Regions from separate parts of the Homo sapiens genome. Here region 2 is linked to region 1. The links come from fine-mapping of genetic effects on gene expression. A gene starts in region 1. The other region holds a variant in brackets. All regions are shown on one strand. Distances are from middle to middle.

Region 1 (9,735 bases):
GGAGCATAGGAGGTCGAGGTTGCAATGAGCTGTGATTGTCACTGCACTCCAGCCTAGGGGACAGAGCACGCAAGACTTGCCAAAAAAGAAGAAGAGAGAGAGAGACAGAGAGAAAGAAAGAAAGAAAGAGAGACAGAGAGAGAGAGAAAGAAAGAAAGAAAGAGAGAGAGAGAGAGAAAGGAAGGAAGGAAGGAAGGAAGGGGATGGAAGGAAGGCAAGCAAGCAGGGAGGGAGGGAGGGAAAGAGGAAGGAAGGAAGGAGAGAGAGAGAGAAAGAAAGGAAGGAAGGAAAGAAGGGGGAGGAAGGGAGAGAGAGAGGAGAAAGAAAGAAAAAGAAAGAAAGAGAAAAAGAAAGAAAAAGAAAGAAAGAAAGAAAGAAAGAGAAAGAAAAAGAAGAAAGAGAAATAAAAGTCATTTGTTTTTAATTTAATGTTGGATACAATGAAGGGGGAAAAAATCACATGAAGCCATCCATAAAAGGCCTTAAGGAATCAATCAGATCTATCAGAAATTAATTCAAAATCCCACTTACTGTCTTAAGAGAATGGCTTGAAAATGGTTCTCATTATTAATATCATTTACATCAAGATATATAAACCTATTTTTCAGGACTCAAAAATCTAAATGACATCTCAACAACATGTGATTGTACCCAGGCATTTCCCCCTGGGAGCACCAAAGGGAAGAAGGTAATTTTTCGGTCTTTTGGAAGCTGTGCCCTGGTGCCAAGATGCCTCAAGCCAAAACCACACAGAGCAGCCTGCCTGACAGATGGGCCCAGTAGCCTTTATCAAGCTCTTAGGCTCTTATGAGCTTCCCTACTTGCGAATTAAACATAAATTTATCCTTTGCGGCTCTTTCATAAAAACACTGGCTCATGAGTGTTTCCATTTGTCTTTTTACGGATCTTACAAGTCAGTCCAAACTGTTTGCAGAATAACAGCATTTCCTAAGTCTTTCTGAGGTAGGAAGGCCAAAAAGAATGCAATTGCCCAAGACGAACAGGACACCCTGCTCACTTAATGGACTCCCAAAGGCCTCCTTTACTGGGGCGGCGCCCTGGAGCAAGGAGTCTTGCAGGAACTTCTGTGTGGCCTTGGCTCCCCTGAGACCCAGTGTGTTCCATTAGAGGTAGATGTTGTTTTTCCCTCACTCCCGGGTGGTACAGACACCACCACATTGGGCCATCAGGCACAAACCTGGACTCTGCCACTATCTGCACATGTCATTTGGAGGGGGAACTCAGCCTCCCTGAGTTTGTTTTCTTACCTGAATCTGGCAAAAAGAAAAAAAAAAAATCAATCATACATCAGATATTGATTAAACACTGTGACAATCCAGACAGAATCAGTTTTTAAGGAAACATAGTGTCTCTTCCTCTAGGAGCTCATGATAAAGACTGGAATATACAGCATGCCAGAGTGGTATGCGTGGGTCAGGGACGGGCATTTTACAGAGGGCCCAGGGACGACCTGAAAAAGGAGGTGATTTGTGATTAAAGACCTGAAGCAGGGGAAGGAGGGAGCGCTGTGGACATCTGGGGAAAGAGCCCTCCAAGGGAAGGAATGACCCTGACAGGAACAGGCTGGGTGTGTGGGAGAAACAGTGTGATCAGAGCAGGGAGAAGGAGAGGCAGTAGGAGGAGATGAGGTCAGAGAGACAATTAGGGGACAAGATCATCTAGGGAAGGGGTTGGCACACTATAGCCCTGCCATCCATTTTTTAAAATAGTTTTATGAGAACCACAACCATGTCCTTTGGTTTACATATTGTCTATGGCTACTTTCAAACTACCCCAGTAGTGGTGAGTAGTTGTGACACGGACCATTTAGCCCACAAAGCCTAAAATATTTACTATCCAGCCCTGTACAGAAAAGGTTTACCAACCTCTGCCTTGAAGAAATAGGGGCTAATTTTTCTCCATGGTAGGGAGTCTGGAGTAGGCAGTGCAGGGTTGGTGCAGAAGCTCCATGATGTTAAGAAGGATCCAGACACCTTTGATCTTTATGCTCTGCCAGCCTCAGCATGCGGACATGTTGCTTTATGATCTCAACATGGCTGCCAGTGCTCCAGACATTACACATCATGTCCTCATTTGAGACAGGCAGGCAGGAGAGACATCTGTTCTTTCTACCAGAAAAGCAAAAGTTATCTTCACCATCCCTCAGATCTCTCCTCCCCCAGGACACCTTCCCCCATCTCTGCGTCCAGAAGTAGGTCGTATGGCCACTTCTAGCTTCACTGAAAAAAAGCTATGAAAAGGATTGTCAAGACTTAGACAGCTGTTTTGTTTTTTTTAACTGTAACCCACAGTAAGAAGCACACATAACTGAAACATAAACAATGCAAACAAAAAGTTCCACAAAACACAACTTATATTTACTATTTGTGCTGTACACTGGTATTTTCCCTTGCATTTTTGAAGTACTAGTCACATCATCAACTAAATTAATTTCATGACCCACTATTGGGTTGTAAGTAGAGTATGAAAAATACAAGTGGGCATGAGCCATAACTAGGGGCTGGCATGTTGCTGCTACAGACAAGTGGGTATTTCTCTCTCCTTTCCTTCCCTCCCTCCCTCTCTCTTTCCTCTCTTCCCCATTCCCTCTTTCCTCCCTCCCTCCTTCCTTCCCTCCTTTCCTTCCTTCCTTCCCTCCTTTCCTTCTTTCCTTCCTTCCTTCCGTCCTTCCTTCCTTCCTCCCTCCCTCTTTCCCTTTCTTCCTTCCTTCCTTCCTTTTTGTCCTTTTCCTTCTTTCCTATCTTTCTTTTTTCCAAAGAAGGAAATGGACATTGGCTGGCAACCAACAGTATCTGTAGCCTCCACCATAAGTGAGCTGGAGACCACACCCAGTTCTACTGAACCCTGAAAGAAAAGGTGACCCCTCCTTCTGAGGGGTCTGACAATGGACCCTCCCCTTCTGAGGGGAGGACGCTGACAATGGACACCTGTGTCTGATGTAAAATGCAAGCACTCACAGCCATAAAAGAGAATAAAATCGTGTCCTTTGCAGCAGGATGGATGTGGCTGGATGCCATTATCCTAAGCGAACTAATGCAGAAATAGAAAAGCAAACACCACATGTTCTCGCTTACAAGCAAAAGAGCTAAATATCGGGTTCACCTAGACATAAAGATAAAAACAATAGACACTGGGGACTTCAAAAGTGGGAGGGAGACAGCGGGGCGAGGGGTGAAAAACTTCCTATTGGGTACTATGCTCACCATCTGGGTGACAGGATCAATCCCAAACCTCAGTACCACACAATGTACAATTGTAACAAACCCGCACGTGTATCCCCTAAATTTAAAATAAAAATGGAAATTTTAAAAAATGCAAGCAGTAACACCAACTGCCCAGGAGTGCTGGGGGAATTGCATGGGATCCCCAATGTAAAGCACTAGCATAGTGTCTGAGCCCACAATGGGTGCACAGGACACATGGGGTTGCTGTCCCAAACCCAGTCCTCACTCAGAGCCAGTCATGGCCCTGTGAACAGCATTAATTAGGTCAGAGAGAATGATTCACACTCGAGTTCTGGAGAGCCCAGGGAAACTGTTATGTCACCCTGGTGCTATGTTTACTTCTCCTATCAGGAGTGATTAAATTCTTAGGATCTCATGCTCAGAGGTTGACAGTTATATTGAATTTTACCCACTTTTAAAAAACCTTTGGAAGCACCCGATTATTTGTCTCAGCTTTGATGAGGGCTGTGGAAGAGCAAATGTGTCATGACAAGTCACCAACCACAGGGAGCCTCAGAGCTGTCAAAGGATGGGCCATTCTCCAAAAATTCAAGCAAACGCAGAAACGGGAGGGCCCCTGGACTGGGTATCTTCAGTCCTGTCACTTTTTGCAGGTGGGGGTTCCAACATAAGTCATACAGCAGCCATACAAGCATTAGCACAGCCCCTCTAAGTCGAAGTTCAGGGACCCATGAGACTCAAATCCCAGGCTGATTTTGGTGCATATGGCCACCTGCACTTTCTAGAAGATCCATATCAGATTCTAAAATGGCCATGAGACCCTAAAAATATTAGGAAACGCACACTGAATGAAACTAAAATGATTTATGTTAGGGGTGGGAGAGAACAGGTCCAGAGGTCAGAGCTGGGAATCGTGAGGTAAAGCAGAAATTGCAAATGTTTTCCATCAACCCCATCCCCCACCTTGACACCCCCACACCCCAGAAACACTGAACTGTTCCCAGTTCCCCAAATGGCTTGTGGTTTTCTGTCCTCTCTGCCTCCGTGCTGGCAAATATTCGTCCAGGAGGCAGTGACTGGGAGAGAAAGACTAACTTCTTATTCACCAGATCGGATTTCTTAAACAATAAGGAGTTCTAAGAGGCCATGCCAAGCAAACGGCCAGACTGTACAAAGGTGCCCCTTGAGCAATAAATAGCAAATGCTCTGGGCTTTACTGATAAGCCTCCCCAGACTCCAAGCCCCACCAGGCATGCAGACAAGTGCCTGCAGTGATTGCAGCGCCTGCGCAGCGGCCCTTGTTGGAAGTCCAGGAGTCCGCGCTACCCCGCAAAGTCCCTGGCCGCTGCCCGCACACCGAACCTCTCGGGGCTGAGTCGGGCTGCTTTCTCCTCGCGTCCCGGGGCGCCCTCGGGAACTCGGGAGCGCGCGGCGAGCTGAACAATGGCCTGGGGACACCTGGCAGGTCGCAGGCCCCAAATCTTCCCCGCCGCCCCTAGGCCACCGCCCTGCACCCGGAACCTACCGGCGTTCCCAGAGCGGGGCGGACGGGGCGGTGCCATTGGCCGGTGCGGAGTGAGGGGCGTGCTCGGGGCGGGACGGAGAGACCGGGGCGGCACCTTTGGCCGTGCCGGGCGAGAGGCGGGGAGCGGGGCGGGGCGAGGGGCGAGGGGCGGGGCGAGGGGCGGGCCTGGCCCCGAGCAGCTGAAGCCTGGGGTCAGCAGGCGCTGCGGGCGCAGCTCCGGTGCAAGCGAGGACACGACACATGCAGTGGCTTCTGGACTGCGCGATGACTGGACGGTGAGTGATGAACGAGCAGGAGAGTGCTTGGGCGTCCATGGAGCATCCCCTCCGACCCAGGACTGCCACCAGGCAGGGACGCTGAAGCCTGGGCACTTGTGCCCTTCGGCCGCAGCGCGCAGGGTCCCTCCCCCGCCAGCCTGGCGCATTGCGGGCCTCGGGCTCATTGCTGAGAGGGGGCACTGCGCCTGGCACCTCTGTTAAGCAATTTAGGGGCTACAACCTGAGCAAGACAGATGAGCCCGGCCACTGGCTACACCTTTTTTGTTCACCTTGTCCTTAACCAGTTTCCTAGAAGCACTGATCCTAGAGTTGGGGAGAGAGCCTAGAGGCCTCTGGCACAACTCTGATTTCACTGATGGAAATCGAACGCCAAGATAATAGCAGCAGGGGGGGTCTGTCTCACAATCGCTGTCTGTAGAGGGCTCGCCTTGCTCTGGGCCAAGTGCTTTAACACGATATGCCTCTTACTCCTCACAGCAAGTGAGAGTCCTACTTTCGTTATCCCCTTTTCAGATGTGAAAACTGAGGCTTAAAGAGTTATAAAATTGTCCACCTTTACCGGATGAGTTGGTGATGGAGCCAGGATTTGAACCCAGGGCTTGTTGTGCCCCTGAGTCTCTTGCTCTTCACCCTTAGTCTCCGAAGGTCAGCCTGCCTGCTGCCCTGCTCTTCTGGGCTCCTGACTCCGGTCCCATCCTGCACTTCCCACTTCCAAAACATGCCTCAGTGTTTTCATTAACCTGGCACGGCGGAGGGAGGGAGGCCTCCTCTCACACCAGAATCAGTGCCCAGGCCAGGGCCAGCACTTTCTTAAAACACAGTAAGGACAGCTTCAGGAGCCCCATTTCACATAGGAATTAAATAAGGTCGCACAGCAAATAAGGGCTGGGCTTCTGGAATTTGAACCCAAGCAGGTTAGACTCCAAAGCTATGCTTTGCACTCACAGAGGAGCCCCTCGCTGGCTTTGCTGTAGTTTAACTGCCCACAGTACTAAGGTGTCAATCAGGATTTGTTGCCAGAAACCATTTTTTTTTAAGTTAGAAGTGAATTGGTGAAGTAACAGGTAAATGTAGACCATCCTGCCTTCTGTTCCTCTGTGTGGTTCCTTAGCTACTTCTGCCAGGACAGCAGGTTAGGGGAGAAGACAGGAAGGGAGAGGGTCAGAGGAGAAAGAGGAAGGGAGGGAAGAGGAGAGATGAAACTCATTAAACTTAGGTTAAAAAAATGCTGGCCGGAAATTGTCATGGGCTGTTTCAGCACTTTGTCAGTGTATGTGAAGGCTGTTGTCATTAGTTCTAGCCATAATTCTCTCAGTGTGTAGTGCTGGTGATTTGACAACAAAAAGGTTGATGCTACAGATTAAAGTGTCTGTCTGAAACTCAGGAGATTGGGTTGTATTTCCACCATGAAGCTCCAGTGGGTAGCCTGGAGGTCGAGAACAGAATCAAGGTCCAGGGTCGCCCTGGGTCAGGACCAAGTGGACCATGACAGATAACAAAGAACATGAACGAAACTTGGGTGTGTGTCAGAGTTCAGATTCTGGACGTGCAAAGCCTCAAAGGGGAGACCTAACTAGGGGATCTGCCAGAAAGCCCTCTGCCCTGGGCCCCTGGGGTCTGGGGCCTGGTTTCAGGTGTCAGCTCAGACTCTCTCCTCATTCATGGCCACTCCTGCAGGCAGGCCTCACATTCCCATCTCTGGGGCTCCACAGTCTCTCCAGAGCCCCCAACTCCCAGTGTCAATAAGAATAGTAATGGGAGCCTCTTTTCATTATGGGTGAGCCCAACACAAGGCCCATCTTACAGGTCTCCTCATTCGTCTTCACAGAAGTCATCGAGGATTATAGTTATTTAATTGATGAGGAGCCCAAGGTTCAGAGAGGGAACTGGACTTGCTTAAGGTAACAGAGCCAGGCAGTCACAGAGCAGAGCTTTAAACCCAGAGCCTTGCAAAGGCTAGGTGGTTATTCTCTCACAGAGTATGTTTGGGGAAATTGTTTTAAAATAAAGAAAATCAAATAAGAAGTGGCTGCACTTCCTAAAGCTTCAACAGTTTTCTTATTTTTGTAAAAGAGAAACTTGTAGTTCCCGGGGTCTCCTTTTCTGGCTGTCCCACCTTCTGCCCTAGGATATACTGTTGAGGAAGAGGCCCGGAACCCCCTCCCTTTGCCCTGCCTGACCTTGGGAAGCAGGGGTGGGGTGTCATTGAGCCCCATAGCTGCAGTGCTGGGAAGAGCCCTGAAGACTCTCTATCAGCTGCCACAACAGCTCTGGCTAAACTGATGCCCAAGAGACGGCGCAACACGCTAGGATCACAGGCCAAGTTAATGCCACAGCAAAACTCACATGCAAGGCTCTACAACGTTCCTCTGCCTCCTCTTTCTTGCTGTGACAGGTTTCAGCAGAGATTCTAAACCTAAGATCTGGGGATCTGGGAGTACATGGACAAGAGCTGTCTCATCTCCCTGCAGTGATATGCAAATTGTGTGTGTGTTTGCACGTGGATGCAGATTGCAACAACATGCACATACATGCATTTTCTGGGGAGAGTGCACTAAGCTTTCAAGAGACTCCAAAGGACTCTATGACCCAAAAGATTCTGGGACCCTTTTGTCTCACAGGGCCCTTATGTCCCCAGCAGTGACATGTGGCACACAGGCCTGGGGCAGTGGACAGCACAGGTGAGGGCAGCCGTAGAGAGCCTCCAGAGCAGCCCTGCAGCAGCAGGCACCCAGAGGGGTCTGCCCCTCTGCATTGCACTCCCAGCCCCAGGCAATCGGGATATTGGACAGTGCCCATTTTGAGCACGTTTGGCCCGAAAACCATAGCTAAGAAGATCTTTGTTTCTGTGGATCTTCTCTTCCATAGGCTAGAGGTGAGCCTGGTTGGTGGGGAAGTTGAGGAGTGGTTCAGGGGGTTCCAGGAGCAGAGAATGTATGTTTAAGGTGTAAGGGGGGAGCAGGAGGACTGGAAATGGTTTTCTTGTCCCAAATTGCTTTGCCTTGAAACAAGGGCAGAAGCCAGAAGTCTTGCCCACTGGGAAGGCTGGTCTGCGATCTACATGGCTGCTCAGGGCCAGGCTCTCAGAGGAAGGGGAGCTGTATCAGGGAGGCCTGGATGCTGGACTGGACTCAGAGAGACCTGTCAGTGAGAGGCCAGAACCGCAGCGGGGAGTAAAGGTGAGCTGGGCCTGTGTGGTCAGTCCAGGGCAAGGCGGGAGTGGAGGTGGAGGGGAGCTCTGTGCCCGCCTCTCCTGGACTCCCCTGGTCTCCATCACCTCCACCTGGACAGTGCAGAGTCTTCTGGGGCAGGGAGGAGTGAGTTGAGCCAGAGGGATGATGGCGGGAGTGGAGAGGAGGGGTCTGGTGATTGGAACTGGGCAGCAGGAGGGGACAGCAGTGTGGAAGGAGGTGGGAGCAGCAGCTGCTGAGTCGCCGCCTGCCATCTACAACCAGACAGCCGGCTCTCACCACAAAAATGCTTGGCTGAGGGTACCCCCTCAGAGGCACCTGGTTTCGGCAGACGCTGCAACTTCTTCACTGGCCAGGCTCCTGCCATTTGCTGGCGAACAGGTGCTGGGAGGGGCCTTTTAAAGCTTCATTGTCCTCTGTGCCCTGCTGCCGTTGTGGCTGGCAATTCGAATGTGGTAGCCACAGACTGCAGTCAGGAACTTAGTCCCCCCAGGAATGCCGTCAGCGTGGCCTGCACCTGCTCTGTGGCCTGCACTTGCTGTCCTCCACCAGCGGGAGCAGCTCAGGCTCCCAGCTGTGCCCCACACACTTGTCCTCCTTTCTTTTGCTTCCCAGGTCACTTTCGTTATGACCTATTTGATTTAAATCACGCTGAAATAAGAAAATAAAAATCACAATTTCAGGAAATGTGAAAACAGAGGTAACCAAGCTCTCAGACTTCACAGATATGCTTAGAACATTTTAATTTGGATGCCTGTACGTTTTCCCTTTTGCCAAGTGAGGACACCACATCTGTGTTGGCCATGTTTTATGTAAGAAGGGACACTGTCAGAAGGAAAAGCAGGCAGCACAGTCTTAAAATAAAAGGCTTTCAAGTGGACTCAATTTCGTGTCACGAAAGCCTCACTTCACTCGGCATCTTCTGTTCCTTTTGCCACTGGCCTGTAGGAATTGGGCCCCGGGGGTGACTGAAAGAATCACAGTCACCTTCTTCTGTAATAACTTTCCCCACAAACACAAAAAAGGAAAGACGGCCCATGCCTAGCAGCTCTAAAGCCCTCGGCGGCCTTTGTCCCTCAGTAGTGACAGCAGACTGTCTCTCTCTGCACGGCTGGCAGAGCAGCTGCTGAAGTGGAAAGGGAGAACAACTCACTGCTTGTTCACTGGGACAGGTAGCCATGGCTGGCATGCCGCCTAGGGGGCCTCCTCTGGGGTACAGACAGCCCTGGCTGCAGCTGATCACTCTGGTTGGGGACAGAGTGTCCTCCAGCCTGGGAAACAGGCGTGGAGGCCTGAGCTATGTCCTGGGACCTGGGGGAGGGGAACGGGCCCAGACAAAGAAAGCTGTACTTTCCCAGCAGAATGGCACGGCTTGGAGGAGGGGAGAGCCTGCTGGCCGACTTGGCCTGTCCAGCTGCATCTGTCACTCTGTGGTTTTTTGAGCCTGAGCCTGGGTGGCAGGCCAGCCCCAGCCCATCCTCTCCTGACTCCTGCTGCCACCCATGCAGCCTCGCTTTAATCCATTTGTGTATTGG
Region 2 (9,991 bases), 27 kb after region 1:
TTAATTGTGGGAAGACTAGTGTCAGAGCACATTAGGAGTGTGTAGTTTCGAGACTGCGGCTCTGGGTAGAGGGCAGCTGAGGTTGCTGGCAAGTATTCTGGCAAATGACTCAGCTTGGCCAGGCTTACACACAGAGTGACCGGGATTGGCACAGAGGCCTGGGGTGGTCTCGCAGAGACAGAGGCCTGGAATAGGTCAGAGGCACTGAATCAAGGGCCCAAGGGGTGCCAACCAGCACTACTAGCAAGGTGCGTGCAGAGGACTCTGTTGATTAGGGCCCCAGGTTGGCAGCAGGAGAGAAGCCATGTCACCTGCAGACCTAGGGAAACCGAGGGAGGTTGGGGACATGGGATGAAGGCTGTTGTAGAAATTCTGGTATGGGATATAGGGCTAGTGATGTCTAAGCAGTGGTGAGAAAAGCAAGACCCTTTGTCAGCCCTGGCAAGTGGACGCTGCTGCTGTTGGAAGGCACCGGGAGAAGGGTGAGGCTGAGACACAGCTAGGACAGAGAGTGCCCACTTCTCCTCTGGTGGGTGTGGGACCCTGCCGGGCCTGGTGGCCATAGGACCTGGTGGCGCAGGACCCCCTCCCAGGTGCAGTGTGGGCAGAGAGGTCCCCTGCTTGGCATGAGCAGACAGGCTGTGCGTCCCTGGAACCACTTCTTCACCGCGGTGTGGACGTGCCTGCCGGCCAGCAGCTGGCTTCCTGTGGGACACCTGACTCAGCCACTGTGTTCTGCGCTGTGCCCCTGGCCAGGCATGAGCTGAGCACATCTCAGGCTCCCTCCCACAGGGCCTGGTCACACGCCCCAGGGCACGTAGTGGCTGATGGTCCTTCCTGAGGGGATGGGGCCACTCAGGAGGAGGGATGTGCAAGGCCTGAGTGTTCAGAGCATCCCATCCCTAGGGGGCACAGGGAAGGTAGGCAGCTGCTCTGGGGGAAGGGCTGATGTGTGGACCCCCACAGGAAGAAGGGACTCTGATCATCGAGGGGCTCCTCAACATTGCCTGGGGGCTGAGGCGGCCCATCCGGCTGCAGATGCAGGATGACCGGGAGCAGGTGCACCTCCCCTCCACCTCATGGATGCCCAGACGGCCTAGCTGCCCTCTGTGAGTACCCGGTGGCTTCTGTGACACCTGCTCAGCCTGAGCTCCCGGGTTGGGGATATCCCGAGCCTCAGGGTGGGAGCCCTGTTCCCTTATGGGACACTGGCACAGGAGGGTGACCCAGCCTCATCCCCATGCCCTGTGACTGCCTCAGTCCACAGCCTCGCCCAGGGTGGCCTCTCCCTCCTTCCTGGAGAACATTCCAGGCTCCCATGACCTCTATTTCTGTTTCTCAAACCTTCCTGCAAGCCACCTTGCTGGCAAGAAGGGACGACTACAGCCAGGGGGGCTCCCAACACCTATGCAAGCCGAACATGTCTCGCCATCTCTTGTTCTATCTTTAAAATTCACACGAATTTAGCCTCTTACTACTCTGTTTTCATTTTAATGTCAAAATTTTAAAAATAAATTTATCAGAATTTCACATTACATTTGTTTAATATCAGAATAATGTTTCTGTCAGGAGGAAATGGTCTCCTGCCTGCCTTACCATTCAATGCACATTTATCTCCTCCTCGGCCCACTCCCAAAAGACGCAGTTAGTAGCTGGGCCTTGCCTGCTTCTGCAGTAGTAACTCCTGTAGAGGGCACACATTCAGAGCTTTGCCCCCTTCAGATTTCATATGAAACCCATGCTGTGACAGCACCCACCACCCTGACAGCCCCAGCACATACCTAGGTGTCCCCAGTCACTCAGCGAATTCTGAGGCACACAGAATTAGAGCATAAAGTCAGACTCCTTAGGAAGGCTGCAAGTGTGACTCACATGTGCCCCTCTTCGAGGTAAAGCACTCACAGACAGCAGTCGCGGCTGTGCCCGTGTATTCTCCAGGATCCCATCTGTCTTCTCTTCCCCAGGTCCCCTGGGCTACAGGGCTGTGCCCCATCATACCCACTCCTTCTCCAGCCCAGCACTAGCTACCCTGGCCTGGGGCTCATCCTGCCAAGAGGCCTGGAGGTTGGGCCCTTCTAGGTGGCCCCTGCCTGACACCCCACTAGGCCTTCGGGAAGCCCAGCGAGCCTGTTTGGCACACAGCTGCTGGCCTGGCTAAGCCTGGTGTCTAGGAATGCGCAGGCCCTGACTATGTTCATGTGTCCGTGTGTCTGTGCGATGCAGCCCAGCACAAGCCCTCAGGTCTGCAGGGCCAGGCTCACTCTCCGTCCAGCAGATGCTGGGGGGAGGCCTCTACTTTTCTTTTATTGTTTCAGACTGACTCTCTTGGTTTGAAATCCAGGCCTCACCTCAGCCTGCCTTGCTTCCCGCCTGTGTCCTACCCCAGGGGCTGCTGGTCTCTTCTCCTTGGCCTGAGCTCCCTTTCTCTGCCGGCAGCCATCTCAGCCCTGCAGTTGTCTGTTTTCAGAAAGGAGCCATCGCCCCAGAACGGGAACATCACAGCCCAGGGGCCAAGCATTCAGCCAGTGCACAAGGCTGAGAGTTCCACAGACAGCTCGGGTAAGCGGAGCCCGCAAGCTGCCCAGACCCCTGCCTCATCCGGGGTAGGAGCAGAGGGGCTTGGCTCACAACCACAATCTCCGAAGGACAGCTTTGTGCCCCAGCCAACGAGGGGCTTCACCTGCTGGACCCCTACCCAGGTGCCTGCCTGTGAGGTGCTCTGCCCTCATTCTCGCTCCTTTTTATGGAAAAGTGAGCAGAGGCTTGGGAGGTGACAGTGACAGTGTGGGGGTGGCCTGAGTCCCCCGCCCTGTGTGTGCTATGGGAAACAGGAGCATCCACAGAAGGCACTGCGCTCTCCTGGCCCCTCACCTCCCTCTGCGACCTCGTCCTCACCCTCTGTACCTGCTCACTCATCCTTTTTATTCCCCTTCCTTTAGCCCTCAGTGAAGGGCCTGTTTCAGAGCAGGGGCTCAGAAGACAGGGCTGGGGCCACCAAAGACCTCCATGGGCACCCTAAGACAGAGACCAAGAGGGGTATGGCCATGTGACATTGTGACCCAGGTTACCCTGTCTGGGTCTCACCTTCCTATCTGCAAGCTGGGAATATCCAGCCTCCAGTCCAGGAATGGCCCTCACGTCCCCATCTGCCCCAGTGCACGTGACCACAGGGCTCTAGGGTGCCAGATCTCCCGACAGCAGGCAGTTGCTCTGTCAGCATCACCCACCCTGCCATTCTCTCACCCATTTCTCATGCAGGGCCCCTGGAGGAGGCAGAGGAGGCCCCCCAGCTGATGCGGACCAAGAGCGACGCCAGTTGCATGAGCCAGAGGAGGCCCAAGTGCCGCGCCCCCGGTGAGGCCCAGCGCATCCGGCGACACCGGTTCTCTATCAACGGCCACTTCTACAATCATAAGGTGATGCCCCAGCCTGGCCTCTCCCCTGGGCGCATGGGGAGCCAGGCCTGAGCACAGGCACAGCAAGCACCATGACCTGTGTGGGGGCTGCTGGCATTCCTGTGCCCTCAGGAGGAAAAACCAGGTTGCATCCACATAACAGCCCCGTTTATGACCTAAGCATTTTCCAGCACATGCTCACTGTCAGTGCATCCTCACAAGTCACACAGAATTCTGGCAAGTAAGCTGGGGATGCCCTGGGCAGACAGTAACGCTGACCGTGTCTTCAATGAGGGCGCTTTCTAGGAGGCTTCCCCCCGAACTCGATTGGTTGATCCCTGGGAACACTGTGTATCCAGCCATCACTCTCACCGAATAATTAAGCAGGGGTGTGCCCAGGGCACATGTGTCTGTGCCCCAGAGAACCTGGACGACCCCAGATTCCCAGCACACAGCCTTTTGTCCAAGGATGCATTGTACTGACCTCAGGAAAAGCTTTCTTTCCCCAAATTACATCATTCTATAAACAAACTGAACTGTAGCAGGAGAAGTTGATTGTTACTGTAAATAGAATGATTGGCTGTCTGGGCAAGGCCCTGGATGGAGCGTCTTGTGACAGGCCATATCTTTCCCTCAGCACTGGGAAATGCAAGCCGAGATTTCCAGTTGAAGCAGCTGCCCTTCTTGATAGAGGATGACTTATGGCAGGGAGGGGGCTCAGGAGGAGGGTCTCAGGGTCCGATCTGAAGGAGCAGGTGTCCCAGGTTAGGCTATCCAGGGGCCATTCAAGCCACACTTAGGGTGCCCTGGACTTTGGAATGTCTACTTTGGAATTCTGCTGGGCAAGCTGAAGGGACCCTGCTTTAATCTCAGGATCTCCCTTCCACCCCCTGCTAGGCTTGTGGTGAGTGAATGAATGACAATAGGGTTGCCTTTGCTAAATCTGGAAAAATCCAGGACTATTCCAAAGTAGAGTCTCCTGAGAGAGTAAAGGGGACCCAGGATTGAAGTTAGGCAGAGATTAACAAAGGTGTAGATTAGCCCAAGGACACAT[G/A]ACATGACTTGAGTATTCTTTAAATCTTGTTCCAAAAGGGGTTTAGTGTGTAATGTGTTGGGTACCCATTGTTAGCATTCAAATAAATGTTGATATGCTAGTGTAAGGAATTATTCAAAAATTTTCCAAAATATGTGCGTGGGTTTAGGTATTTTCCAGTTCTATGTTCCTTACCAAAAAAAGGGTGGGGGCAGGGATGTTTTGCTCCATGATTCAAAGTACTGAATGGTGGAGTTTAGCATTGGTACATTCGCTTCTCCTCGAAGGGTCTCATTCATCACTAAGAGGTGTGTCTGGTACATTAAACCTTATTGTAGTGATTGCCAGTGTCATAGGAACACTGAGCTCTCTGCATGTCCTGAGCACTCTGCAGCCTTTGAAATGAACAGTGAGGGTTTTCATCGCAGCCTCTCATTTCCAACTGAACCACACTATCAAGAAGAGCTACTCAGCCAGACAACATGGGGTCTCAGCCTGTCACCCAGTGAGGGCAGCTTTTCCTCCTAGTGACAGATTTGCCCTTGCAATGTGAATCCATTCTTCCAGAAAAAAGTACTGCTTTCAAGGACACAGAATAGTGTCTTAAGCATTTGGGACAGTAGCTCCCCCACCTCCTGGGTAAGGGAAGTCCCAAAGAAAAGCACTATGCAAAAAGCCCTTTCTTACCACGCTCAACATCCATACAGAACTAATGTCCTTAGAAATGAGGGGACAGATTCCTTGAGTCAGAGGCAACAATTGAAAAAATAAATAATTCCTAGCATTGAATTTCTGAGATAGTTCCAGGTTTTGTTTCTTAGAACTGTGCACCATTACTTCACTCAGTCATTTTCCAAAACTGTTCTGATTCCCAGAAATGTTGGTTTTATTTCCAGACAGGGTGAAACTTTGTAGCTGTTTCTACTGCCTGACCTATTGGATTCAAATGCGTTCTGTTAGAGAGAAACCATTTGTGGTTAGAGATAAGAAAGTAGCCAGGGGGCCTTTGTTCCTACTTGGAGTTGGTTGGTATCATCTTGAGAAAAGGCTTCGTGCAGAAGAAACACAGTGTCTTGTTAACAAGACTTTTTGTCCCTTTGAAATAGCCTAACTCCTCTGTTTCATGTTTCTTTTTTTATTTGAGATGGAGTCTCACTCTGTAGCCAGGCTGGAGTGCAGTGGCACGATCTGGGCTCACTGCAACCTCCACCTCCTAGGTTCAAGCGATTCTTCTGCTTCCTGAGTAGCTGGGACTACAGGTGCGCACCACGATGCCTGGCTAATTTTTGTATTTTTTGTAGAGACAGGGTTTCACCATATTGGCCAGACTGGTCTTGAACTCCTGACCTCGTGATCCGCCCGCCTTTGCCTACCAAAGTGCTGGGATTACAGGCGTAAGCCACTGCACCTGGCCCTCTCTTCCATATTTCTTTGGACAAGAAAGCCTAATCCTAATCCTGGCTTTCTGTATAACTCAGTCATTCTGCACCTCAACTAGAATCGAGCTGGGGGAAGCAGGTCGAGGTTGAGTCTGACTCTGGCACAGCGTGCTTCATTTTATTGTGCTTCTTGTTACTGTACCTTGCAGATTTTTGCAAATGGAAGGTTGCTGTTCAGCAACCTTCCATTTGCAAAAATGTGCACTTTTTTTTTTTTTTTTGCTGCACCTGCGGTTTCTGCAAATTGAAGGTGTGTGGCAACCTTGTGTTGAACAAGTCTATCGGTGCCGTTTTCCAACACTATGTGCTCACTTTGTGTCTCTGTGTCAGATTTTTTAGCAATAAAGTAGTTTTAATTAAGGCATGCATATTTTTTAGATGTAGTACTGTCTCACCCTTAAGAAACTACAGTATAGTATAAACATATCTTGTATATGCCCTGGGAAACCAAAACATTTGTGTGACTCACTTTATTGAGATATTCGCTTCATTGTGATGGTCTGGACCTGAACTCACAATGGCTCCCAGGTGTGCCTGGACTTATCAGAGCGGGGATACTGAATAGGTCCTTGAGCTCTCTGAGCCTTAGCTACCTCCTTGGGAAAACAGAGCTAGGATCTCAGAGGAGGAATATGCGAATCTAAACTTGAGTTTGAAAAGCAAGGAGAGGTTCACCTGCAGAGGAGTCACATTCGCTGGGAGGCACCAGCACCAGGGGGGTAACATGTAGGTTTTCAGGAATCATGGAATCCTTTGAGTCAGGGCTCTGTCTTTTCTAGGTGGGTAACTCTGAACAAGCTGGTTAACCTCCTAAAGCCTCTGATTCCTTTCTAAGAAAAGGGGACTAGTTATAGCTGCCTCAAAGGGTTGTTATGAATATTAAATCAATGATTGTATGTAAAATCTTAGCGGGTTCAATACACAGCTAGGGTTTATTGAGGACGGACCTATTATGTGTCAGGCAGAGTCCTGGTTGATTTCATATATGGTGTCTCTTAGGCAAAGGCAAGATACCTGCAAAAATATAATGTGTCCCCCCACCCCCCAGCCAAATTGTGAAGAAGCTCTGTGACTGGAGCACATGGTGCTTGTTAGGCAACCATAGTGTCATACGTGCGAGACAATGAGAAGAACTACAGATGTTATTGCACAGTCCCCAGGAAGCCTTCAGATACTTTTAGACCCGCGCTTTCAAACAGTGCTTCTCACATTGAACTGCACAGATCGCTTCGCCTTGTGTTCTACAGACGCAGACTCTGATTCAGATGGTATGGAGCAGGGTAGGGAAGGGAGCCGAGACTGTATGGATGCAGCTGGGCTAGACGTCACTTGGAGGTGCAAGGGTTTTAGAAGTCCGTTCCTGTAGGCAGCGGTGCAGACTACGGATTAGAGGGACTGAGACCAGAAGGGAACAAGCTGGGAAGCTGATATGGTGTGATCAGTGCCTCTACTAGGCACTGCTGGGAGAATGAAGAGGAGGAGACAGATTGGGTAACTTTCAGCCTTAGAATCAACAGACAACTGGTGACTTAATCAATAGAAAGAGTGATGGAGAGACTGATTCCCCCACCCTTGTGAATGACTTCCATGGCCCTGGTTCCTCGGGTCCAGAGAGCTGGCCCTTCTGGGTGTGTAGACATCTTCCTTAGGCCTCTGGAAGGAGTGCACTACTACAGCTTCCCGGAGTGTCTCCCAGGTCTGGGAACAGCTTATGTGTGCATCAGCGTGAATGGACAGGTGCAGGTGTTCCCAGATCTCAGCGTCACCTGCTGCCTTGGTCTGTTCACCGTTGTGATGTCAGTCCCTTGTCCCCTCTGGGCCTGACCTGAACTTCTCTCCCTTCCTGGTACAGACCTCCGTGTTTACTCCAGCCTATGGATCCGTGACCAATGTGAGGGTCAACAGCACCATGACAACCCTGCAGGTGCTCACCCTGCTGCTGAACAAATTTAGGGTAAGCCTGGTCAGGAGCAGCCTTGCCCCAGGATGCCAGTGGTCTGCTATTCTGTTGGGGGTGGGGTTCTGGGGAAAGCTGCCCGTGGCAGAAGCTGCCTGGGCAGAAGGTCTAGCAAGGGTCCCTCTGCTGAGCTTTGGTTTCTCGGATTTCAAGCAAGAGGAGGTTGGGAGAGGACAGGTTCCTTGCAACTTGCGTGTGTGTTACTGGGGGTGTAGTTACTGTCAGGGGACCCTCTCAGTTCTCTCCCATCTCCAAGCACCGTGATCTGACTTCCTGTGACTGCCTGTGCAGGTGGAAGATGGCCCCAGTGAGTTCGCACTCTACATCGTTCACGAGTCTGGGGGTAAGTACCTGCCCCACTTCTGGATCGTAAAAGCAAAAGGTCTCTACCTGTTCAGCAAGCCCCCTCCCCACCAACCACTGACTGTACTCCCTTCCAGATGGGCTCCGTGCTGGCTTGCCTAGTGGGCTAGGGCACACTGTGCCTCCCAGCATGAACATTTCTCCCCCACCCAAACCCAGGCACACTATGGAAGCCTTGAGGAAAAGAAAACATACTTTTGGCTTCGAATTTAAAGCACATTAAAATGTCCTTGGATTTTCTAGGTCGCTCAGTACATTAAGTTTAATTCTTTCAGGATTCTGAAGGAGAATCCCACCAAGCTATAGGAAGCCTCCCTCTCCGCCTCTTCCAGAGAAATGGATGGGTGGGTACCTAGCTCCTTGGCGCCGAGTCAGGAAGGGTGGGGTGCGTGTCGCAGTGCATCAGGCCCTGGCCCTCCCGTCTCAGCTTTCCTTTCTCCCACCCCTCAGATCTTGTTTCTCTTCAAGCTGCACCTTTGCTGAATGACACTGTAGGGGAGGAAAATTATCTTCTCTTTCTACCCATTTAGGTTCACTGGCTGGGGCCCTGTATTTAGATTAACAAAAGACAGATTAAGGAGAAGAACAAACAGAAGTTTGTTAACACTTGCATCATGCATGCCCTTTGGAATATCCAGGGATGAATGGTCAGAATTTGGGCTTAAATAGCATATTCACAAAAGAGCAGTAAGTTTTTAGAGAAGTGACAAGACAGAGGAGAAGGGCCTGAGTTTCTGGGGAGGCGAAGGGTGGGAAGGTCACCGCACGGGGAGCTGCGGGAAGGGAAGGGCTTCAGCGGGACGTGCTGTGCAGGTTCCTCTGGTGCCCTCTCCAGGCTGAGGAGGGGCTCGGGTTGTCTCTGGTGATTAACTCCATCATTGCCTAGAGAGGGACGGGGGCACACCTTGACAAATTTATGTCCTGCTTTTTGGCAAATAGGGGAGGGCAAAGAGCCTCACTTGTATCTTCTTCTTCTCAATTGCCAGCCGCTCCACTTAATCCTTATGCCAAAGTGGCAGATCTGGGGGCCCTGTTCTGCCTCCCTTCTGCATGAGCAGGAATCTCTCAGGGCAGCGCTGTTAGCGAGGTCTGTGTTCTTAGGGTTCCCTGCGCCCCTAGACGCACATTTTCTATCAGTTCCTAATCTGGAACAGACAGAGGTGATCCTAATCTCCCGTGATTTTTGTAAACCACCTTCTTTTTCAGAGCGGACAAAATTAAAAGACTGCGAGTACCCGCTGATTTCCAGAATCCTGCATGGGCCATGTGAGAAGATCGCCAGGATCTTCCTGATGGAAGCTGACTTGGGCGTGGAAGTCCCCCATGAAGTGAGTGGGGGCCAAGGCTGGGGAGGCCTGCTCTAGGGTGAGGGGTTCTTGGGTGACGGGGCCTCCCAAGGACTCCTGGCCAGAGCCCTGTCAGTTGATGTCTCCAGGAGCTCCACACTCTCCCAAAGGGCTCCCAGCCTAGCACAGGGAGGCGCCAGCCCTCCCTCTCCCATCAGTGACCGCCAGCACCAGCAGCTTAGGGGAAAGAAGAATTTGGGTCCTATAAAACCATGGCCTGTCCTTTTCCTCTAGGGAAGTAAAGTCTTTTCCTTCATTGGAATGTATTTTGTTGTCATTATGTGAGAGACCTATGCAAAGGCTTTTTAACTAGGCCCTACCTCGCACCTGTGGAAAACAGGGAGATATTTAAGTCTTACCAACAGCCTGAGTTCTGACCAGACAGTGAGTGCATTTCCAAACTCCTCTGCATAGAAGATGCTTACAGGGTTTGAACCTCAAGTAGGAGGCCTAGTGAC

What was found. PIP is the estimated chance that this variant, and not a neighbour inherited with it, causes the effect.
Region 2: its variant is fine-mapped to the expression of RASSF4 in whole blood (TOPMed, PIP 0.97).

What each region holds. Positions count from the first base shown.
Region 1 is chr10:44,954,861-44,964,595 of GRCh38, forward strand. It overlaps RASSF4 (Ras association domain family member 4), which reads left to right and starts at 4,942. Exons shown (of 11, transcript NM_032023.4): 1 at 4,942-5,006. It overlaps TMEM72-AS1 (TMEM72 antisense RNA 1), which reads right to left and starts at 4,829. Exons shown (of 8, transcript NR_033842.1): 1 at 4,732-4,829. RefSeq lists enhancers at 4,621-4,915, 9,400-9,479, 9,490-9,549, 9,670-9,735 and a silencer at 4,693-4,912.
Region 2 is chr10:44,981,555-44,991,545 of GRCh38, forward strand. It overlaps RASSF4 (Ras association domain family member 4), which reads left to right. Exons shown (of 11, transcript NM_032023.4): 4 at 967-1,109; 5 at 2,468-2,559; 6 at 3,259-3,416; 7 at 7,720-7,821; 8 at 8,116-8,167; 9 at 9,394-9,515. Among named protein-coding and RNA genes, the nearest start is that of DEPP1, 7.7 kb to the left of the region's middle. RefSeq lists enhancers at 2,348-2,848, 9,448-9,991. The variant G/A (reference allele first, on the strand shown) is at 4,450.